7 linked regions of the Homo sapiens genome follow. The protein of the gene in region 5 purifies or fractionates together with the protein of the main gene of each other region. This does not show direct contact. Each region holds a gene or a part of one and is shown on either strand. Other genes may lie near its edges.

Evidence for each region.
Region 1: the proteins of RBBP8 (region 5) and ZNF217 purify together in Homo sapiens (affinity purification with mass spectrometry, with the first as the bait; one large-scale study listed by BioGRID). This does not show direct contact.
Region 2: the proteins of RBBP8 (region 5) and ZNF350 purify together in Homo sapiens (affinity purification with western blotting; one study listed by BioGRID). This does not show direct contact.
Region 3: the proteins of RBBP8 (region 5) and RSF1 purify together in Homo sapiens (affinity purification with mass spectrometry, with the first as the bait; one study listed by BioGRID). This does not show direct contact.
Region 4: the proteins of RBBP8 (region 5) and PBX3 purify together in Homo sapiens (affinity purification with mass spectrometry, with the first as the bait; one large-scale study listed by BioGRID). This does not show direct contact.
Region 6: the proteins of RBBP8 (region 5) and CDK5RAP2 purify together in Homo sapiens (co-immunoprecipitation; one large-scale study listed by IntAct). This does not show direct contact.
Region 7: the proteins of RBBP8 (region 5) and PHF6 purify together in Homo sapiens (affinity purification with mass spectrometry, with the first as the bait; one study listed by BioGRID). This does not show direct contact.

Annotation. Positions count from the first base shown.
Region 1 is NC_000020.11:53,583,840-53,587,339, forward strand, and holds part of ZNF217 (zinc finger protein 217), read right to left. Parts: exon of another isoform or gene 2,913-3,500; intron 1,256-2,912; exon of another isoform or gene 1-1,255.
Region 2 is NC_000019.10:51,963,840-51,966,840, forward strand, and holds the end of ZNF350 (zinc finger protein 350), read right to left. Parts: intron 2,376-3,001; coding exon 1,015-2,375; 3' UTR 501-1,014; downstream 1-500. UniProt on the Homo sapiens protein: Transcriptional repressor. Binds to a specific sequence, 5'-GGGxxxCAGxxxTTT-3', within GADD45 intron 3.
Region 3 is NC_000011.10:77,698,723-77,702,222, forward strand, and holds part of RSF1 (remodeling and spacing factor 1), read right to left. Parts: coding exon 1,999-3,500; intron 1-1,998. UniProt on the Homo sapiens protein: Regulatory subunit of the ATP-dependent RSF-1 and RSF-5 ISWI chromatin-remodeling complexes, which form ordered nucleosome arrays on chromatin and facilitate access to DNA during DNA-templated processes such as DNA replication, transcription, and repair.
Region 4 is NC_000009.12:125,753,873-125,757,372, forward strand, and holds part of PBX3 (pre-B-cell leukemia transcription factor 3), read left to right. Parts: intron 1-3,500. UniProt on the Homo sapiens protein: Transcriptional activator that binds the sequence 5'-ATCAATCAA-3'.
Region 5 is NC_000018.10:22,939,828-22,943,327, reverse strand, and holds part of RBBP8 (DNA endonuclease RBBP8), read right to left. Parts: intron 1-3,500. UniProt on the Homo sapiens protein: Endonuclease that cooperates with the MRE11-RAD50-NBN (MRN) complex in DNA-end resection, the first step of double-strand break (DSB) repair through the homologous recombination (HR) pathway.
Region 6 is NC_000009.12:120,391,772-120,395,167, forward strand, and holds part of CDK5RAP2 (CDK5 regulatory subunit-associated protein 2), read right to left. Parts: intron 2,868-3,396; coding exon 2,741-2,867; intron 1-2,740. UniProt on the Homo sapiens protein: Potential regulator of CDK5 activity via its interaction with CDK5R1. Negative regulator of centriole disengagement (licensing) which maintains centriole engagement and cohesion. Involved in regulation of mitotic spindle orientation.
Region 7 is NC_000023.11:134,411,312-134,414,811, reverse strand, and holds part of PHF6 (PHD finger protein 6), read right to left. Parts: intron 1,325-3,500; coding exon of another isoform or gene 1,322-1,324; coding exon 1,155-1,321; intron 990-1,154; coding exon 846-989; intron 1-845.

The sequences.
Region 1 (3,500 bases), on a different chromosome or scaffold from region 5:
CCACTGTTCAAATCCCAGCTTGCTTTCAACGACTTTCTGCCTTCAACAAGCACTGGGTGGGGCTTCCTAGTCCAAACAACAAATAGGGAAAGACATACACAAAGCTCCTTTGTGAATGTATAGATTTAAAATAAAATCCTCAACAGGGCTGTTTCAACATGGCTTAGTCTTTCATCAGAAAATGGGCCCTCTCATTTTTTTAATCTACCTTTCACATCATGCACTGGCCAGGTGGAAAATTACTTTATTTAGCTCTGCTGCTTCTGGTTTAGAAGCTAATTTTCACTCCTGGAGAAGAATTAACTTCTAAAGCCAATACCCTCTGCCTTTATGGCAAACATTGGATAGGCATTGTTTTTAAATAGTCCCAACTACTTAAAACTTAAGTCAGTTAATTCCACCCAAGAAAACCAAAAGGCATGCAAACTACTCCCAGCAAAGTAACCTTAAAAAACAAAAGCATACTTTACTTTCCTCCCTCTCTCTACTTCCTTAAAGAGCAAGGAAGGCCTGCAGGCTCAGAGAAGCCAAGGAAACATCTCCTCCTTTACACTCCGAAATAGAAATTCTCATACTCCTTGTTATCTTTAGTTTTGAATAAACTAGATCTTTAACATTAAGCTTTTCTAAATAAGACTGCAGATCAAGGATTAGGGTAAAGGAAAGAATGTCCTGAAGTCTTTTCTTTGTTGCTATCACAATGGAGGATCAACACATGGGCTGGTGACCAGCTTGGTGTGATATAATAGAACACTCCAGAGACCCGAGTTCTAGTCACAACCTTCAAGTTGTCACTGCCACATACCACATCTTTCTATTATCTATTTAACGCAGTTGGTTAAACTATAGGATGGCCTTTACAGTTCCAATATTCTGTGGTTCTGGGGATAGAGCTACACATTGAAAAGAATATTCAATTACTCTGCTAATCAGAATGTGAAGTGACTTAGGTTTCTATACATAGAAGCTTAAGTTTCATTTGCTTATTCAACAAGTATTTACTGAATGCTAGCGTCCCAGGCAAGGTTTTAACTGAATAACAGCACATACCCTAGAAAAACAGTTATCAAATTCTGACAACGCTGTTTTCCCTGGCCAAGAACAAAGACTCATTTATTTGAGGTCCTTCCTACTTTTAGATGCTAAAATACGCTTATTTTTTAAAAAATCAAATAGTGGCAATAGGCAATAGTGGAGTTTTTTGGTTTTTTTTTTAATGTCCTTATTTAGCAAAATCAAAGTTCAGTGAGAATTTGAAAAAAAAAAAAAAAAAAAAAAACTAAGTTAGTCCCTATGTCAGCTCTCAACATTATTACTGTATTTTAGAAACTTGACTAATACGTGAAACTGTAATTTTGGGGAACTCCACTTCTCTACTGACATCCTTTAGAAAAAGAGACACCAGCTCTACAGTCTCGGGATTAGAAATATGATGTGAGGACGGGTATAGTGGCTCACACCTATACTCCCAATGCTTTGGGAAGCCGAAGTGGGTGGATCACATGAGGCCAGGAGTTGGAGACCAGCCTGGCCAACATGGTGAAACCCCTTATCTGCTAAAAATACAAAAATTAGCTGGGCATGGTAATACACACCTGTAATCCCAGCTATTTGGGAATCACTTGAACCCAGGAGGTGGAGGTTGCAGTGAGCCAAGATCGCACCACTGGTCCAGCCTGGGCAACAGAGCAAGTCTCCCCTCTCCGCCCAAAAAAATAAGAAATATGATGGAGTGTTATTTCCCACTCAGGGAAACAGCATAACTTAGTTACTGAAAATATTTATTAATAGAAAGATGTTTTGGTTCCAATTCTCAATTATCTGGGTTAAAGAAGTTACCATCACTCTCCACACAAGACCTTGTAGGATTATTTCACTGCGGTGAAGGACAATGAAGGAGGTTCAGTGGGAAACGATCTTAGGACAGAGGAAGCTTCCACTTTGCCTGGGAGGGTGAACAGCCTGGGAGACCTGGAGATGAGGGCAGGCATTCTAGGCCAAGGGGTCTTCTTGTGTGGTCAGATGGGGAAGGAAACCCTCCTGGCAAAACAGCAGAATTCTTTCTCCAGGAAAGCTTCTGAGACTGACTCTAATAGTCAATTGTGACCAACTGTCCTAGGCTCCCAGGGCCACAGCAATCCTTAGGCACCCCAAATGTGCCATCCCTGACTACCCAGCACACCCTACCCCCCCAAAGTATTGTGACAGCTCAAGGATGACTTCCTCTGAAAACCTCTGTCCAGATCTAAAACCATCCTGTTTGTTTGCTTGTAACTGTCTTTTTCTAAAAGTAACACCTCAGGATGGAGACTGTTGCCTTGTCCACTGCTGCCCCCAATGCCTGGAACAAGGTGCCTGACACAGGATTAGGCACTCGACACATAGCTGGTGAATAAATGTCACGGAATTAGCACACGTGTAGAATCAGTACACACGTTTGGCCACAGTCACTAACCGTAACTGATCAGAAATTAAAATTAACTTGCATGTTCATCAAAACTTCTACATGGCTATCAGCGACTGCCATCTAATTGCCATTCTGCAACTTCAAGAGTACAATTTCAAGAGCGTAATAAAAAAAATCGTATTTAATCACACCATAAAGTTGATCAGCACAAGCAAAAAAAAAACTGCACTATTTGGATTTATACTCACTCTCCTTATGACCCTCCAAAACAAAAATGCTGGGCATCCTAGGGCTATCTCTGACAGCAAATGCCTTCAGCTCTTGACTTAGAAACTGCTAACACACTAGACAAAACACTTCCTTAAACTCTAAGACAATGAATAATACTTTAAACCAGGTTTACATCCCTTAAAACCAATTTGCTCATCAGTAATCGTTAAAGTGGTTGTAACAATAAAGACGTTAATAACAGAATACAGCAAAATAGAAATTCTAATCTACTAACAGCAAATCACCGTTCCAATTGAATGGGGTGTGTGCACAAACACAAGCCTTCCCAGAAGCCTCCAGCTCTCCACACTCCTGCACACAGAAGGCAGCAGTAAACCGATGGCACTGCTGATAAAGTAAATTGTCTTTCTTGACAAAGAACTGGAGGAGAAAAGCAGGATATTATAATCCAACACTATAATCTAAATGCTTCTAGCTTGCAAGAAAGTGAGCGTTATGAACACGCTAAGCTTACTGAAAAGTACTTCACAAAAATGTTTTCCAATGTTTAAAAACATTTTAAAATCTTTACTCAGGTAAACGACAGAACTTAACTCATATACCCCCTAACACCTAAGGCAAGTGGGCTATTGAGTATAGCCATATTTTGAAAGAAACTTCTATTGGGATTATTTCAGTAGATACTTTTAAAATTTACCAGAGCGTAATCTTTGAAATCCAGTAGGAACCATATTGCTAGAAAAGGCTGGAATAGAAGTGTGATGTTCTTTAGGTCACTAATTACACACTGATTTGTGACTAAAGCTACCATGAATTCTACCACTACCTGTAGATCTTGAAATCAGCAAATAGGACACATTCT
Region 2 (3,001 bases), on a different chromosome or scaffold from region 5:
CATAACTTTCTGGGATGTTGGAAATAATGACAAAGAGTCCTCATTGTCTGAAAGTTCTGTTCACTCTGCTGTCCAGTTTAGTAGCCTCTACTCACATATACAGCTCTTGAGCAGTGAGGGAACTGAATTTTTAAATTTTGTGTTCAGTTTCTTTAATTCTAAAATTTAAGTAGCTACAAAACTTAGCAGGGAATTTGTAATCTCTTGGAGAGATAAGACACGGGCAAAAACAAACAAACAAAAAGCCCTCCTTTTTGTACTAAGGTGCTTAAGTACCATTAACAGCAGTCCTTCTGCTACTCCTTGAACAATAAATTATCGCGTCCCCTGGACACAGTTACTCCATGTCCATTTCACCTAATGTAGATATTTGCACCGCCTGACTAGATTGCCTGAGTGTAATGATACCACTTAAAATTAACCCCACAAACTCTCCAGGAGACCACAAACTTTTTCTTCTTTGACCTCAGCTCCTGGAACAGGACAAGGTACAAAGGAAATAATTTTAAAATATTTGTTTAATGAAACAAATTGACTAGTTTCACAGATCCCTCTGCATAATACAAAGTTCTGAAAGTTTATGGTCCTGGTTTTCAATTAATCCTCCACACTGGCACTGGTCTAAGGAAACTGAATTGACACATATGTGTCCCACATTCCACCATTACAGTATTAGCCCTTTCCCACCAACTGCCCCTTATGAAGCTTTTCAGTCACTGCAACACTCCCGACACCAATTATCTCATCTGTTTTAAAAATTCACAGTACTTCATTTCCTCCACTTAAAAGTACTTGGGCTTCCTTTACTCATTTAATTGACACAGTCGAGCAATTGCTGTGTATGTGCTTAGGTTAACATCAAATTTGCCTGTGTATCACAGCATACATTTTAATAGGATGAGTTTATCAGGCTATCTCAGCCTTATACATGTTCTCTCAGTGTATGCTTTTCGGCCACATAATGAACTACAAATTTTTGCTCAACCCTTTTCCACATAGATCTGAGTTTTCTTCCTATGGGTTTTCTGTAACATAAAATAAGACATAATTGATCACGGAAGGCACAACCACATTCACTGCATTCACAAGGTTTCTGTCCTGTGCAAATCCTCTGTTATCTCCTGAGGCTGCACATCTGACCACTGGCTGTCCCACAAGGACTACGTTCCTGTTTGCGAGGAGGCCGCTGATGTTTAATGATGTCTGAGGGGCCACAGAAGGCACTTGTGTAGTCGCCCCGTTAGCAGAGTTTTTCTCCTGCATGACATCACTGGTGTGTAATGAGCTGTGCCTCTCTGCAGGAGGATTTTCCACCTTGGCTGCCTCTTGTTTCTCCCTTGTGTGTATTCTCTTATGCTTAACCAGACACGACATATACGCAAACGCTTTCCCACACTCGTTACAGCCATAGGGTCTCTCTCCTGTATGAGTCCTTTGATGGACAATGAGCTTTTGCTTTGTGCTAAAGGCTTTCCCACATTCACTACATTCAAAGGGTTTCTCTCCTGTGTGAATTCTTTGATGTTTAATGAGACCTGATTTCTGAGAACAGGATTTTCCACATTCACTGCACACAAAGGGCGTCTTTCCTGTGTGAAATCTCTGATGTGCTATGAGACACGTCTTCTGAATGAAGCCTTTTCCACATTCATTGCATATATAAGGTTTCTCACCTGTATGAATTCGCTGGTGTACAATGAGATTTCCTTTCTGGATGAAGCCTTTTCCACATTCACTGCATATATAGGGTTTCTCTCCGGTATGTGTTTTCTGATGTATGTTGAGCCGTGATTTCTTGAGAAAGGCTTTGCCACATTCAGGGCATTCATAAGGTTTTTCTCCTGTATGAGTTCGCTGATGTTCAGTAAGCATGAACTTTCTGGAGAAGGCTTTCTCACATAGACTACATCTGTGGGGTTTCTCTCCTGTATGCATTACCTGGTGATCAGTTAGCCAAGACTTCTTGATGAAGGCTTTCCCACATTCACTGCACACATGATGCTTCTCTAATTTTCGTGTTTTCTGATGCTTGGGACTGATGAATTGGGACTTAGTGCTGATGAGTTTTTGACTTGCAGGGAATTTAATTGCAGTATGAAGTCGTTCATGGTTAGCATGAAGAAAGGAGTCCCCATTTCCAGTAAACTCAACAGAGTTCTTTATTTCATAGCCTTTGCTCTGGTTAACTAAAGTTAAATTGGATTTCAAACTTTTTCCACGTAAGTCAAATATATCATGATTTTGCCCTAACAGAAACTGACTTTTGCTGCAATGAACAATATTTTCAAATGCATCATGTTCATGACATGGTTTCCTTCTGTTCACCAGGCTTTCACTCTGCAAGCGCTCCAGCACATGATCAACTTTCCATATGTCTAGAAAGAAAAGAACAAAGATTTCTATCATTTAGATTTGGGGTAAAAGTTTGTTGTGGTTTTTTTGTTTTTTTTGTTTTTTTTTTTAAGATGGAGTTTTACTCCGTTGTCCAGGCTGGAGTGCAATGCTGCGATCTCAGCTCACTGCAACCTCTGCTTCCCGGGTTCAAGGGATTCTCCTGCCTCAGCCTCCCAAGTTGCTGGGATTACAGGTGCCTGCTACCATGCCCGGCTAATTTTTGTAGTTTTACTACAGACGGGGTCTCACCATGTTGGCCAGGCTGGTCTCGAACTCCTGACCTCAGGTGAGCCATTGTGCTCAGCCAAAGTATTTTTTGTTTTGTTTTGTTTTTGGGAGACGGAGTCTCACTCTGTCGCCCAGGCTGGAGTGCAGTGGTACAATCCCGGCTCACAGCCAAAGTATTTTTTGTTGTTTTTTTTTTGTTTTTTGGGGACGGAGTCTCACTCTGTAGCCCAGGCTGGAGTGCAGTGACATGATCCCGGCTCACTGCAACCTCCACCTCCTGAGTTCAAGCGATTCTCCTGCCTCAGCCTCCCGAGTAGCTGGGATTACAGGCATGCACCACCGCACCCAGCTAATTCTGTATATTTAGTAGAGACGGCGT
Region 3 (3,500 bases), on a different chromosome or scaffold from region 5:
TTTGATATAAGAATGTCTTTTAAAAATCTCCTGATTACATGTCCATTGTATAATAATATTCAGCCAATATACCAAAAAAAGAGGAGAAAATTATTATAGTCTCATCATCAGATATAGCTATGGTTAAATTTTGGTATATATTTCCACTATTTTTTCTACATTTTTGTTTACTTTTTTCTTAAAACCGAATTATAATGAACATTTGGTCTTATATTTTTCCTAGTCACATTCTCCTAACATTACTATAAATGCCATTACATAACTGTTTTTATCTAATCCTCTACTAGACATTTAGGTAGTTGTTTCCCATGTTTTTCACTTTCGTCAACAATGTACTGTATCTTTACAAATATTTTTACACACATCTCTGTGGTTAGGATAAATTCCTTGAAGAGGATTCTGGGTCAAAGGTCATGCACATTTTAAATGCTTTGTAAGAGAATGATGACTATATTCTCACATATTTTCATGTAAAAATTTAAAATCCTGTATTAGAGATAAATTTTAAATTTTAAATAAGCCAGAACTGCATATAAAAATCCTGACAAATGTAAAAATATATACATTCAGAGAGCAAATTTATAATGTGACTAACAGCTTTTTATTGCGTAGTTTTATACTCTTTTAACTTGTGTTTTAGTTTATTCCTACACTATAGGTCGTCAGCAAAGAACAAAATAAGTCTAACAACAAAAGAAGAAAACATTAAAAATTCAGTATCTCAGGGAACACAGGATCACTTACAATGAAGAATGATCTGATCGTTTAAATACATTAAAAAGAAAAGTAGCACTTTTGATTATGATAAATTCCCATAGACTAGCAAAAGACTTGTAAAATATTTTGCTTAAAATAACAGGGTCATAGTTATGATGAGTAATACCAACATTAATGAGTAAAATGGGGAAAACAGGCACTGTCATACACTGGTAATAAGATGCTATATTAATGGAGCCTTTTTGGAGGGCAATGTGGAAGTAGCTATCAAAACTTAAAATATACATGTCCCTTGACCCAGCAATTCCAATTCTAGGAGTCTATTCTAAAGAAATACTCACTCATGTCCAAAAGGATCTTCAATGCAGCATTGCCTGTAATAGTGAAAAATTGGAAACAACCTAAATGTCAATCAGTAAGTGAGTGGTTAAATAAACTGAGGTATATCCACACTATGGAGTACTGTGTGGCCATTAACAAGCAAAAGGGATACTATATCTACGGACATGAAGAGTTCAGAGACACTTTAAGTGAAAAACTCACAGAAAAATGAACATATTTGATCCAATTTCTTTTTTAAATAAGTAAATATTTATGAACATCCACATAAATGCATGAAAAAGGACTGGAGGGCCAGGCACGGTGGCTCACGCCTGTAATCCCAGCACTTTGGGAGGCCGAGGTGGACGGATCACCAGGTCAAGAGATCGAGATCATCCTGGCCAACATGGCGAAAACCCACCTCTATTAAAAATACAAAAATTAGCTGGGTGTGGTGGCACGCTCCTGTAGTCCCAGCTACTTGGGAGACTGAGGCAAGAGAATCGCTTGAACCAGGGAGGCAGAGGTTGCAGTGAGCCGAGATAGTGCCATTGCACTCCAGCCTGGCGACAGAGCAAGACTGTCTCACAAAAAAAAAAAAAAAAAAAAAAAAAAAAGACTGCAAAGATACTATACCCCACACTGTTAATAGTGGCAATTATCCCCAAACTGTTAATAGTGGCAATGGGGAATTCTCATTCTATAATTCTACAGGTTGGATATTATTTGAATAGTTTACAAGGAGAATATATTCCTATACTACTTTTAATTTCTTAAAAAAGTTAAAAGATGACAAGAGTATAGAGTATAAGTAAGAGTATAAAGTCTGAAAAGGTATCTCAGACAGAGGAAGAAAGATACTTTGTCAGTTGTCTTTGATGACTAAGTTTTAGACAAAACCAAAAAACCTATTAATATATAGAGACAAATATTTTTAATTAAAGTTAAGACAAGTTTTACCTTGCTTACTTTAGAATTTGTATCTTTCTCTGATTTTTTCAAAATTTCCTTTTTGTCAGTTTTTTGCAAAGCTGTTGACTCTTCTTCCACCTCATCTTCTCCTTCCCCTCTTTTTTTATCAGCTTTCTGATCTCTGATCTCAGCCACTTTTGCAGTGGGTCTAGATATTCTTGGAGATCTTCTTAAAGTACGACCCACATTTGTTTTCTCCTCTTCCTTTTCTGTCTTCTCTTGCTTGTTTTCTGGTTCTAGAACTTTGGGGGGAGAATCGGGCTTCTTTTTCCGACTTGATATCCTGATTGTTAATTTGATGCCCTCTTTCTGCCTTTCAGAGGTTATCTCTGTATTTTCTGAGGCAGTGGTTTCTTCTTCAGGAACCAACTTATATTTGAATTTGCTTTTTTGCATAGAACCCTTTGTCTCAGAAGGCTCCTCTATGCCAGAGGTCTGGGCATTGTCCAGATTATCCATTTCTACCTTTGTGAACTCAGAATCCTCTTTTAGGGTTTCTAGGTCTACTTTTTTCACAGACTGGCCACCAACAGTACTTGTACTCTGGCATTCTACCACTTCTTTTTCTGAGGCTAGTTTCTCACAGTGGTCAATGATATTAGATGGTGGAGAAGTTTCAGCTGCCTCAGGAGAGCCAGGCTTTTCTGACTCTAGAGTACTCTTTGGAACTTCTTCTGGTATTGGACTCAATCTTTGTGCGTCCTTATCAAGAAAAGTCTTTTTGGACTTCTCTAACTTTTCAAGACATTCTAGGATTGGTGGGCGCTTATCCTTCTTAGTTTTGGGAGACTTCTCTTCACCTTTCATGGTACACGACTCGGTGGAAGATAAAGCAGTTTTTGAAGAGAGATCTTTTGCCATCTCAGAAGAATCAAGAGAAGTTTCCATTTCTGGAGGATCGGGTTCCTCTATTTGTGCTTTTTGACTATGGATCTCTAAGACTGATATTGAACTATCTGCATCTTTCCTCAAAGGGGCTGTTTCTTTCTCAAGCTCACCTGTTTTCATACTTGTTATGACAGAATTTAAGGACTCTGTTCCATTTCCCTCCGTGATGATATTTCTGTCCTTAGAGGGGCTATAGCTCTCTTCCTTTGTCTCATAAAACTTTGTCTCTATTGGTTCTGTCTTAAAATTTGGAGCTACCCTTTCATCACTAACTTCTCCATTTACCAGCTGTTTCCCTTCATGACCCAAAGCAGTGATTGTAGAGATCCTTTTACAAGTCTCTTCCTCTTGTTTTATTTCATCTTTCAAAAACTCTTTTGTTGGAGTAACTGATTTACACAAAGGTCCCTTGACTGGACTGTCAAAATCATCACTCAGTTTAATTTCTCGTTTTTTTAGTGGTATCTTGGCCTGCTGGTCATTTTTAAGTTTCTCAGTTTCTTCAGTAGATTTCTCAGTAATTTCGTGAGAAGATTTAATATTGCCACCAAATTCGATCCTTTCAGGCTCCTGTGCCACTGGCTTCTCCATGCTACTTTTGG
Region 4 (3,500 bases), on a different chromosome or scaffold from region 5:
CAATTTATAAATTTTGTAAAAGGTTACTTCTGAGGCAAATTTAAATTAACGTATTAGTTGGATTATTTATATTTTGATACTTTATAGTGGCATGGTATAGGATGAAGTTACATTATATGAAGTGGGACTATAAGAATTGAAACTGCATTTCGTGAACCACACCCTAAGTCAGTCATCACTTTATTTTGTACTCTACCCTGAGGTATCTATTTAGAATAAATGCTTAACACATCAGCACTAACACATCAAGTTATATAAGGTTTTAGATTATCTTTTCCCTATTCGTGTTTGTGAACATCTTTAGATATTTATTAGTTCAATATTGACATTATGAGAATAATGTTTTGTTTTCTCAGCAGTCTTGTGTTTTAGCCATTTATCAGTGTGATCAGCATGATTTAGGTATTAACTGACTAACAAAGCTTACACATTACCACCACCTCCCCCTCAAGCCCGTGTTGACCTTTTCAAGCATTTGCTCTACTTCAGTAGGCCATTTGAGTCTTCAAGTATGAAGAGAGTAAATAATTTATATCACTATGTAGTATAAATTGGTAAAAGTTTTTCAGAACTAGCTATCTGATTTTTTACAAAGTTATTGAAGTTAATCAGACAAATTGCTATCACATCTAGTTGACAGTGCTATATTTAGCAAATAATAAGTAATTCTTGAATGAGCTACTGAAAAAATAAACCACCTTTTTATGCCTTCAAACTCAGAACATATTAAAAAATAAATTTCATTAATCTTCAACACTTGATTCTAATTATCCCTTTTGTAGGCAGAATTGCAACAAGAATTTCTTCTGTATTATTTTTTCATAGATATATTCCATAGTATAATATGTTTGTAGGTTTTAATGGTAACTAGTTTACTTTGGCACTAAATTTGAGTGTATATCTAGCAAAAAAATTGGTGTGATAGAATGTATCAAACTGAATTGGCGTAACTTTTTTTGTATAACTGTCTACGTAATAGTAACAGGTTAGTATGAAAGCAATTAAAAATATTTATGGATAAAAATAATTGTTAAAAGTTTTCTACTTCTTTCAACTTAAGTGCTTTAAAAATGTTAAGCTGTTTAGACAATAACTCTTTTTTAGTGATCATATTAATGAGGACTTGGTATACAATGTAATCCTTTTAATGCTGATGAGTCCTCACAATGTTTAAACCATTATTTGTGAGACTCAACATGTTATGGCAAAATGATTTTTTGTTTGTTTTGTTTTCTTTTATGTGATACATCAGTTTTCAAAGCATATTTCTTAGGCTTCAGAGTCCAGCAGGTGGCTTTTTACATTAAAAAATTCATAAATTTTAAAATCCCATAAAATTTTATTTCAAATTCAAATTAACTAATTGAGAATGTCAACATTTTCACTGTCTCTATATTAACATTTATAATAGAACAAATGGTTGCATATAGAAATTATCTGCAACAGTCTAAATTAAGATTCTAAACAGGCATTACAGATGCTGGTAACTTTGGCAATTATCATTTTGTTTGGTGAACAGTAGTAAAACAGTGTGCGGTAAAAGTGTTTAGAGAGAGAGGATAAATAAATTGAACAGTTTTGCAATGCAAAGTGGTTTGTGGTGTTTTTGAGGATTTCTTGGCTCTCTCTTAACTGCTATTGTGAGCCTGGAGCAGATTTCCCCATTGCTAATGCCCTAGAAGTATTAATTCACTTTGATATGCTAATTAGAGGGCATTATGCAAGAAATGAGATTAAGTGGCAGCATGAAGCCATTTGCCTGTCAGTAAATTGAGAGCTTTAGCATCAGGAGGAGCTTTGTTTTTTTTTTTTTTTTTTTTTTGAGTTTCTCTTGGTTTTGCATATAAATAAAATTGATTGAAAGGTCTAGAGAAGCTTCCAGAACATTGGTGGATTCTTTTTTCCCCCTCCTATGATTATTTAAATGAAATGTTACAGGATTTTTCTGAATATTAATTGACCTAATTGGAGATACTGAATATAAAGTTTTTATTGTAATGTTTCTGTATAAAAATATACTAAAATTTTTGTGTCACCTAGTCTTTTTTTTCCTAAAACATAATTTCATTAACATGGCTAATGAACTGTTTATCACTTATCTCTTCTCAGAAGTGTAAACTTCTGTGTATGGGCTTGTGCACCAATGTCACTAAATTGAACTTCACAAGGATATTTTCTTCACTAGGGAAGGAAGGAAGAAGTTGAATTGGGCTTCAGAAAACTATATTAAATGAGTATTAACATTCTGACTTGAATCCATAAAAGCTGTAACAATTATAATTCATGGTTAAACTGCCCTTTATACAACCTGTGGAATTTATATTTCAGCATATATCTTATAGGTAAGATTACTGATGACATTTTGTGTGGAAGATGGAATTTCATACTGGATTCAGATTTTGTTGACTTTTGTGGCCTAAGCTAGGCCTCTGAATTTTTCTCTATAAAGCTATTTTGTGATATTTCTTATATTCTGGGGAGAAATACATGAATGAATACTAGGATTGCTGTGGGGAAAGGGAGGAAGACAGACCTTCTGTGCCTACAAGAAGGTTAAGGTTTACTCAAACATGGAACTTCTATCTATAAACCATGCATAGAGGATGGAATTGCAAAATCCTGGCCTAACTGTATTTGCTGGGTATGGTTAGAAGGAAGAGGGTTTGGGTAAGGCATTCCTACTGGGGTTTAGTTCAAGTGTCTGAATTCCACCACTGTAGCTGTGACTCTGGACCCAGTAAACCATATCTTCTCTTCAGAGCCATGTGGATTATTTAGTCACCACAGCTGCCATGCATGCATACTACCAAGGCAGGCATCTCTTCGGTGTGCATGTGTGATGCCTGTTAATGGTAATGTGAGTTACGAATGTGCACAGAAAGGAGGATGAGTTTCTCCTGAGACAAAAGTCCTGATTACATTTCGCTGTGAAGACGACTTTTAGTGTACCTACCACATTAGCTGCTTTTCTAAATGAAACACTTGGTTACTTTAAATTCTCACTCCCTTCTCTGATTCCCTGAACTAGTTAAATCAGTGAATCCTCATTAGTCTCTGATTACTTGCAAAATTTCATTTAAAACATATGAAGTTATTTTTGATTGAAAAGGGAACAAAAAGCTTTTGAAATTGCATGTTATTATTTAAACAAAGGTTTCTACAGGCTTTCAGATGTACTAAGCCCTGCAAATAATTTATAGAGGAATTATTGGGAAGGACTTATGAAATTCTTGAATGGCATTTGATGGGGAGGAAATCATTGCATTAAAAAATATATATATTTGAAATGGCAAGCTTAAATGTGCATCTTACCTTTACTATCCAAGTGTCCTTAAATGAGGAAGAATTGACTTAGGTGGTCTTACAAGTTTCATTTTTCTTTCTTTTCTCCTCCCACCATTGTTTTTTTTTAAAAAAAAAACTACAGGTGAAGGTTGTTGGAATTCATAGTCAGATATATCATTTTCAACTTGGAATAGGAACTAGAGCAGGAAATTGAT
Region 5 (3,500 bases):
AGCTGGGACCACAGGCACACACCACCATGCCTAGCTAATTAAAAAAATGTTTTTTGTAGAGACAGGGTCTCGCTTTGTTGTCCAGGCTGGTCTCAGACTCCCGGACTCAAGTAATCCTCCTGCCTTGGCCTCCCAAGTGTGTGCCACTGTGCCCAGCCTGACAGCATTCTTAATAATGAGTGGGACAATTCCTTTCACTGTTAATTTGTGCAGTCTTAAGATAATGTTCTCTTTTTAGAATTTTTGATTCTATGTATAGAAAATAAATGGAGCAATTAAAAAATGAATCAAGAAATATTTATCCTGTCCTATTAGAGCCCCCAAACTTTCCCATTTCTTCAAGGTGTTTCAACTTTGCCTCACAAAACCTACCTAGTTTTCTTTGAAACTGATTACCATATTTACTAGACACAGAAAATATATTAGCTAGATGTTAATAGCAGACGCTGGCATAGGCAAAAGATCATTTATTAAAATAGTGGTATTCTGAAAATAAATATTTTAAATTCTATTTTATTATTTGTGCTTTTGATAATAAACTTGATACTGAAAAAGATTTTTAAAGGCAATAAAATTTTGTACCCAAATAAATATGCTTTAAAACTTTTGAAATTTAAAGAATTCTGAAGTTTCCATTAAATTCTGTGAGTTCGGAATTTAAAGCATAAACACTGTATATCATCAGTAACAATCTGTGACACTGATACTAGCAGCATTTGTCACAAAAGGAACATATCATGAAATGATACAATCATGAAAGGATAAAATTATCTTAAAGGATATAAAAACTCGGTCATAAATGTCTCCAGAATTTTTCAACAAAAATGGTCTGGTTTGCATATTGCTAGTCTCCAACAGAAATTAGAGCATTTTGTCTATTCTTGCCTAGTTTTAAAAGACATGGATGCAGTTTATTATATTGTTGTGATCAGTGCACATACTGTCATATTTTGCTATCATTTTATTATGTTTTGGCAAAAGAGGCAAAAATAATTCTAAACACGTGTAGCAGAGCATTCAGATTCAAGCAAGTTCCTATGGGTACATTTCTGTAGCTAAGTAAAAACTATATATCTCAAATATTACCATTCCCAACATTTCTCTTTTATTTTTTACTGACATGAAGCTTTAAAAGTCATGAGTCAATTTTGATTCCTATATATACCTTAAAACCTGCAAAGTCCAGACAAGTCCATGTTTGATGTCTTTCAAACAGCTTCTTACACTGGTTTCTACAAATGGATTCCCCACCTCCTTAAAAAAATTAAGTTCCCTTCAGGCATGTCTTTGATGTTATCATATAGAGACTCTAATTTTATATGGAACTATGTGGAACATATTGACGAAGGCATGGCCCAAACCAAAATGTTTTAAAATGACATATCTACTTAAAAAATAGTACTTATTCATTTAATACCTTTAAGAATCCATAAGTTATTTGAAATTGGGAAAGTGGCATGATCAATATAACGTACCAAAGATTATCTTCTCTTATGAGCTCATATATCCAATACCTAATATTCATAAAACACATGGACCTTATCATATACACCAACAATTACTGTATTCCTCCCTTAAAGTTATTCAGAGTATAGAAACTTTTGTGGGAATGTGATTAGAACATAACCATGAGGAGTACACTTTAAAGGAATTATCTACTACATAATATTTGCAAGCTTTATATATTCTATAATTTGATAAATATGGCATATTGTTCCTATTAAAGAGTATACCATTTGTTTCTTGATGCTTCCTCACTGTAAAATAGGGATTTCATGAAGATCCTGTAACACCAAAGAATAGGAAGAAGAAATCTGTCAAATATTTTATTTCTATTAAATTAATAGCTTATAAATAGCCAGGCACAGTGGCTCCTGCCTGTAATCCTAGCACTTTGGGAGGCCGAGATGGGCGGCTTGCTTGAGGTCAGCAATTCAAGACCAGCCTGGCCAACATGGTGAAACCTCATCTCTACTAAAAATACAAAAATTAGCCAGGAGTGGTGGTGCGTGCCTGTAGTCCCAGCTACTTGCGGGGCTGAGCCAGGAGAACTGCTTCAACCTGGGAGGCAGAGGTTGCAGTGAGCTGCGATCATGCCACTGCACTCCAGCCTGGGTGACAGAGTGAGACTCTGTTTCAAAACATAAAAAACAAAAATAGAAATCAAGAGTTTCAAGAAAGTTGCAGAATATAAAATCAACTCACTAAAACCAGTTGTATTTCTATACACTAACAATGAACAATCTGAAAAGCAAATTAAAAAAACAATTCTATTTACAGTAGCATCAAAAGAATAAAATACTTAAGAATACATTTCACCAAGGAGACAAAAAACTTGTACAATGACAATCAGAAAATGTTGCTGAAAGAAATTATAGAATGACCAGGTGTGGTGGCTCACACCTGTAATCCTAGCACTTTTGGAGGCCAATGAGGTCAGAGGACTGCTTGAGCCCAGGAGTTGAGACTAGCCTGGGCAACAAAATGAGATCCCTGTCTCTATAAAAAAATAAATTAGCCAGGTTCGGTGGTGCATGCCTGTAGTCCTAGCTACTCTGAAGGTGGAAGCGGAAGGATTGCCTGCACCCTGGAATTTGAGGCTACGGCGAACCATGATTGTGCCACTGCACTCAAGCCTGGGCAATGAGGCAAGACCTCATCTCTAAAAATTAGTAATTAAAAATTAAAAAATCTTAAAAAGAAATATAGACCGGGCGCAGTGGCTCACGCCTGTAATCCCAGCACTTTGGGAGGCTGAGGCGGGCGGATCACGAGGTCGGGAGATCGACACCATCCTGGCTAACACAGTGAAACCCCGTCTCTACTAAAAATACAAAAAATTAGCCGGGCGTGGTGGCGGGTGCTTGTAGTCCCAGCTAGTCAGGAGGCTGAGGCAGGAGAATGGCATGAATCCAGGAGGTGGAGCTTGCAGTGAGCCGAGATCGCGCCACTGCACTCCAGCCTGGGCTACAGAGCAAGACTCTGTCTCAAAAAAAAAAAAAAAAAAGAAATATAGAAGACACTAATAGAAAGGTATCCCGTGTTCATGGACTACAAAACAATATTGTTAAGATGTCAATACTATATAAAGCAATCTACAGATTCAATGCATTACCTATCAAAATCCCAAATCCCAAAATCCCAACATTTTTTGCAGAAATAGAGAAATCTGTCCTAAAGTCAAGGCAAGATGACAATCTCTTCAGCATAGCACATACCATTTTACATAATTTGGATCTATGTACATTTCTAGCATCATATCCTATCCACCTCCCCCAAAACTCCAATCTCCCATTCCATTTCCTCTTAGAACTAAACCTAACTATCCAGAGTTCCTTGAATAAAATCAAGCTCTTATCTGCAAACTTTTGCATGTGCTATTCTCTCTACTCAGAAAATTCCCTCCCCTTCCACCATCTTCCTTGCCTGGCTAATTAGACTTAATTATCAAGCCTGGTCTGACATAAACCATGCACAAACCCACTTCCCCATGCAACCAC
Region 6 (3,396 bases), on a different chromosome or scaffold from region 5:
GGGGACGGAGGAAGAGGAGGTGCTATGCCAACTTTCTCCTAGTCCCTTTAGACCCAGAGCAGGTCTGTGAAGTCCGCAGGGCTTGGAGAATTTCCAAGGACCTGACTCCTTGGGATGAGCTGCAGAGCCTGGCAAAGGAGGAGTTGCAGGCCCGGGTCAGCCACCAGCTATGCTGCCTGGAGCAAGCCCCTCACCCTGCTCTGGCGGAGCCTGCTCTGTGCCAGGCCTAGGAGATATGGAGATGGACAATACCAGCTCAGGAGGGGAAGTGCTATGAGACATTTGCGGCTCTTCTTACTATGAATGATTTGCCACCTCCATGCATAGGATTTGGTCTGGCCTAATGGAAAGAAAGAGGAGGGACTGGTTGAGCATCTCCTCTGCCCCCGAGACTGTGCTAAGTACAATACAGTTTAGGTAGCGTTATCATCCTTATTTTACAGATGAGAAAACTGGGGTGCTTTTTATAAAGTTGCTATTGAACCCGGGACCAACTAGTTAGTCTGAGTCCTTTGGAACTCACGTCTCCAGTTAGAGATGAGGAATCGAAAGCTTAGGGTTCTAGTCTAATGCAGGTCACATAGGAGAATGGAGATCTGAACTGTGCTCAATCAATAATTCCATGTTCTCTGACCTAGGACACAGGGGATCTGGGTTCTAGTTCTGTCCTTTTGACCGACCACAGTACTCAACCCATCGAAACCTACTTCTGCAATTTTCTCACCTGTCAATAGGGTTAGCTACCTGCCCTGTGACTGTTCAGGGCCAAAGGCTGCTGAGGAGGAGAGATGCCAATGCAGAGAGTTCTGCCTTTCTCTAGACCTATGCAGAGCATTGCTCCCCACCCCACTGCTGCTCCAAGAGTCTAACCTAAATATTCCACAGCTGCCTTAACAGGACCACAGCTGGCACTGTCTCTCTCCAGGTTCCCCTCAGTGCTCTTTTTCTCTACGAGTGACACGAAACCCTCAACCAGAACCCCACAGACATCCACCACTCTGCCAGGTTGACCTCCTTACAATCTTTCAAAACCATCCCTTCTCCCCCACAGTCCTGACCCACTGCCCACCTGGGGGACTGCTGCAGCCCCCAAAGAGGTCTTCCCGGCCTCCTGGCCCCTCCAAGCTCAGCCATGGGATCTTGTAATACACGCATGGACCCCGCCGGTCCCTGCTGCTCGTCCTGGAGTCCTGTCCACAAGGCTCCTTGCAACCTGGTTCCTGCTTCTCCCTCTCACTCATCTCTCAGAGGAAAACCCTTTGCACGTCCTAAGCATGTCCCTGAGCACTCAGTTCTCTCTCACCCCTGGGAGCACACCAGCAAGTCCACAGGGCCATCTGCCAGAATCCTATTCCTGCCCCTTCGCTGACAAATTCCTAGTCATTCTTCAAGACCCAGTCAGTCTTGAACCACCTCTCAGGCCTCCTAGGATGCACTCAGCACATCGTCCTGCAGCTAAGCTCTGTGTCTCCCCTATTAAGCCCACGACCCTCACTGGCAAAGACTGTCTCGTTCATCTCTGTCCCCAGGACCTGGCGTAAGGGGCAAAGAACAGGAACTCAGTGCCTGCTCAGTGGCTGCGCTCCTCTCTTTTGCAGTCCAAACACTGGCAGTCTCACAGAGTCTATTTTCAGAAGGTTCCCAGGGGTGGCTAAGGAGAACTCCTACTTGGCAATAATCTCTGTCCTGTGCTTCTCAGAAATGCCCCAGAAATGTTGGACTTTGACAGGAGAGCCGCACAAGGCAGGCTGGCACCTCCAGAGAAAAAGTGCTGCAGTCAGCAGTTCTCTTAAGACAGGGAAACTGACACACAGACAGCGCAGGCTTGGCCAGGGCCATGTTGCCAACAGGCACTAATGGAAACTCAGCTACCGCCTGCTCCTCTAAATGCAGCGGGAGGGAGTGCTGAGGGTTTAAACCAGGAGACAGAGCTGCTCCCAAACAATCTCCAAAGTGGCTAGATCAGAACTGGGACTGACCTTACAAAAGTTACTTAACCTCACCAACCCTGAGTCTCGGCATCTGCCTTGAGAAGTATTTCTCAAATCCATGCCCTCCTCTGGATCCCCAGCGTCCTAGCCACCTTTCCTGTCTGACTAGTGAGTCAGCCTCCCCCTCACTGGTGGAGCAGCCACCAGCGAGCCATTCTTGCACACAGATGTGACAGGCCAATCCTCTGCCCTGAGCCTGCCACCTACAGTCTTTCATGAAGTACTCCCTGACCCCCAATCCCTCCCACCTTAATTCACTGTTTGCAGCCTTTACCCCACAGGGACTGGTTTTGGTTTCTCACATACAAAAACTTATTTCCTGCCTTTGTGCCTCTGTCCATGCTCTTCCCTGAGGGACTGCCACTCCCCGCTCCATGTGACGACGTCTGCTTTCATTTCACACTCAGCGAGGTGGTCACTTTGTCTAAGACGCCCACCTTGCCGGGACAGAGTGACGGCCACCCAACTCCCACCCCAGTGCTCTGCATGTTCCCATCACTGCACATGCCACACGACTGTCTCCCAGTGAGACGACAGTCCCTGACACCAAAAGGCCGCTCTACAAAGGTGTGTTAAGTGAATACATTTGTCTATGTGAGTCAGAAAGGATGGAGTATGAAAAGAAGCCCACAGATAGGAGGCATGATTACAAACCATCTGGGCTCCAAAGTGGGTAATCCAGGGCAGAACTGGGAGCCCTCGGAGGCAGGAAGTGGTCAGGCATAGCGGCCACCCCCACACTCACTCACATTGATCAAAGATGACTTTTTCCTGGCGCTTGCTCAGCTGCAAAAGCTTCATGGTGTTTTGCAACTTCTTTTCTTGTTCAAACAATTTTTTATGTAGTTTGGTGACCTCTGCCTTCATTTCTCCAATCTAAAGAGAAGAGAAATTAGAAAAATGAACAAAGAACATAAACATCATGTTACACAGGAAGAATTACAAAGCCATATAAAAAGATGATGCTCAACCTCACTAGCAAAAATATTTGAATGGAAACTAGAAGCCTTTTCCTGACAACCAGGAAAAGGCAAAATTGGACAAAACTCATTGAGGGTAAGGGGAAAGCACCTCGTGACCTCTGGTGGAAGTGCGGGATGGCATGGCCCAGTGAGAACGCCCTGGCAAGATCTACCAAACTGAGATGCGCTTAACTCTTTGCCCCAGCAATTCTACACGCTGGCATTTCCCCCAAGGAATAATAACATAAGCACAAGAAGATGCCTATGTACAAGGATGTTCGTCTCAGCATTGTTCATGGTAGGAAAAAATAACCTGATTTCAGTATAGATCTGGATAAATTATGGTACTTACATATAATACAATAATTTAGCAACTATTAAAAATGACGTTGTAGAGCTCTATGCATTGATATCAAAAAATGATCACAGTTAGTGACAAAAGA
Region 7 (3,500 bases), on a different chromosome or scaffold from region 5:
GCCAGTGTGGAGCCAAGATTAAATAGCCTGCTTTAAGCAATGAAAATTTCAACAATGTCACTCTATTCTCAACTATTTTACATTTCCACAAAGTTTTAAAAAATAGTTTAAATTGGCAAATTTCAACCATAGATGCAGATTAGAATCACTCGCGTATTTTTTTTTTTCAAACTAGACATATACGAGATCTATTCCACAGGGTGCCTAGATGCACATATTTCGGAAAAAGCTCACCAGGTAAATCTGACATGCACTCTGGTTAAGAATCTCTGACATAAATAATGTAATTTTAAAAACCTTATCAATGGGATGAGTCATTCAATACAATCTAAGTCAAAGATATTTATGTGTACTGTAAGTCAGGCATGGACCTAAGGATGTCAAGATAAAAACTTATTCTTATCTTCAAGGAATTTAAGAGTCTGTTAGGGAAGATAAGTTCATAAATGAATAATTGTAATATAGAGTGTTAAGTACAACAGAGATAATTATTAGGTTATAGTGAAAGTCTAAAATATATTTCATGACATGCTTATAAAGACAAAATTTTTATAGTTATGAAATAATTAATTACAGATTATCCTAACTACAGTAACTATAATTAGAATTACTTCAAATCCTACTAAAACATAAAGGCTATAATTTAACAAAATCTAAACTTAAGATTTGGGATTATAAGATATACTGTTTATAACTCTAAAATACTAATGCTGGTGGGGGGAAATTTTTTGGTTACTAGCTAAATGATTTTTAAAAAAAAAATCATTTGGGCTTTAGATCACAGGGGAAACAAAGAAAAACAAACAACAAAAAAACAAAATTGGGCTTAAAAGAACCATGCTTACCATGCACTTATAATGGGCAGCTGCCTTCTTGGCATTAAATATATGCAGTTTTCCTCGTGCTTCATTTTCTTCCTCCCCTACATGGCAAAATCCACATTTAGGCCTGGTGTCACTAGGGCTGCTTCTGTGTGGAGACCTATCTCTCTGCAAATGTAAAAGAAAAAACGAACTTAAAAAAAATCATGAAAATATGCTATCGGTATTTCAAGCTTACTTAACATTTCAAATGATGAACTTTACCTATAGATAGTTTAAATGAAATATTCATGGTGCAACAAAAGTAAGAATCCAACAGTTTTTTTTACTTACATAGGAACTACTTTCCATTTCATCTGTTCCATGGGAGGATGTGGACCTGGTATCTTCTGACAGCCCTTTAAAATTAGTTTTTCTTGGCCTTCCTTTGCGACTTTTCTTTTTACTTTTAGGTGATGAGGGCTCCAGTTCATGTTCATTAAAACTTTCTTCTAAATCAGCTGCTTAAAAATGAACAAAAACTTTTTATGGACCAATCTCAAAATAAGTATTAGTTCATGGGTCTTTAGGACATATGTTTCTCCTTAGAATGAAACTGTCTCCAGAAATGAGGAGAAATGGTCTGTGGTATGTTCAATAAAGCCACCCAATGTTTCAGATAAATGCAATAAAAATCAAATACAAATAGTTTAGTAAATTAATTTTTAGAGTTTGCTTTTGCATTATTATTTTTTTTTACCATAGGTTTCAAAGAGTTTGTAAAATTAGAACACTTACCTAGAAAATACACTTACTGTAACTTGGAAAACTAAATGAAAATAAAGTAGATATATCTGTGCTATTCAATGTAGTAGCCACTAGCAACATGTGGCCTTAAAAAATTTAAGTCAGTTATAATTAAATAAAATTAAAACTTCAGTTTCTTAGTCACACTGACCGCACTGCAAGAGCTTATTGGCTACATGTGGCTAGTTGCAACTGTATTAGACAGCACATATACAGGACTGTTGCCACTGTCACAGGAAAGTTCTACTGGATAACACTGGTCTAGATTACTCTTCAAACGATCATGAAAACTGAATGAACAAATTCAACAAGGAAGTCATTTACAATTGAACTAATGGATCAAGTAATTAAACAAATATTAAGTACAAAAAGAATTTCTAATACAAGCAGTAAAAAAAGTATGTTGCAAGTTAGTTGCATATGCTTTAATGAATTAAGCAAAACTTACGCAGAAATTTGAGAACTGCATTTCTCAGTAATCTGAAAAGAATTTCTACCATAATGAAAGGTGTTTCATCAGTAGTTTACTATAAATATTTTATTTATTGAAGGCCTCTGTATAAGATAATGTATTAATATTTAGTGTTTAAAAGGGTAATAAAAACCAAATGTTCACTTGCCATAGGCTCAAACTATGGAAAGTTTTAGGCACAGCTCTAATATTTTCGCCATTTTTTCCTTTACCATGTTATTGATTATAATTCTAGAGACTAATTTCTCAATGAGAAAGCATATCAACTCCTATGCTCAGACGTTAATATCTTTCCTACTACTTTGAAGGTTGTTTATTAGAAATGAAAGCACATTTATTATAAGAAAAGGGCAATTCAGTTGGTATACTTGAATATATATATAAATTAAGGGAACTACAAGTATTAGGTTGTTTGCAAAACAGTTAATAACAATTTACATGAGTGCAACTTCACATAGCTCTGGTGGGACTTGAGGGAGTTAAGGGGAAAAGGTAAAAGTTATTGCATAGTGTTTTATAGGCAACAAAATAAATTCACGTGAATAACTTCCTGTGAAGACACAGAAGTCAATTAAAGATGTTTTCTCTCCTTAACACGATAGCAAACTTCATGTCAGAATACACTACTTAATTTAAATATTCAAACTGACAATTTTTAAGACATGGAATTTCACTAAAAGCTGTTAGAATTACTTGCACTTGGCTGGGCGTGGTGGCTCACGCCTGTAATCCCAGCACTTTGGGAGGCCGAGGTGAACAGATCACGAGGTCAGGAGTTCGAGACCAGTCTGGCCAATATGGTGAAACCCCGTCTCTACTAAAAATACAAAAAATTAGCCGGGTGTGGTGGCGCACACCTGTAGTCCCAGCTAATCGGGAGGCTGAGGCAGAAGAATTGCTTGAACCCGGGAGGCGGAGGTTGCAGAGAGCCGAGATTGTGCCACTGCACTCCAGCCTGGGTGACAGAGCAAGATTCCATCTCAAAAAAGAATTACTTGCACTTGCCAAATATTAAAAATTCTCAAAATGAAAAATCATAACTGTTTCAATCATTCTAAGACATCTATGTGTATGTATATATAAAACATTGTTTTATACATATGTATACACATAATATATTCAGTTATCTATTATGAAAATAAGCATCACTAACACCATACATAACACTATTAAATAACATTTAATAGTTGTTTAATAAATAACAATAAACAAATAAGATGTTTAATAAATAACATTATTAAACATCTATAACATTTAATAATGTTATTTATTAAACATCTATAAAAATTACTTAAGAACTGATTCCATTATCAAGCCAACATGATTAGTTTCCCACATGTCATATTTGTTCTAAATATGAAATCATTCCACAAAAATTTTTAACAACTTTAACATCAATAGTAAAAGTCACGAAAGATTCA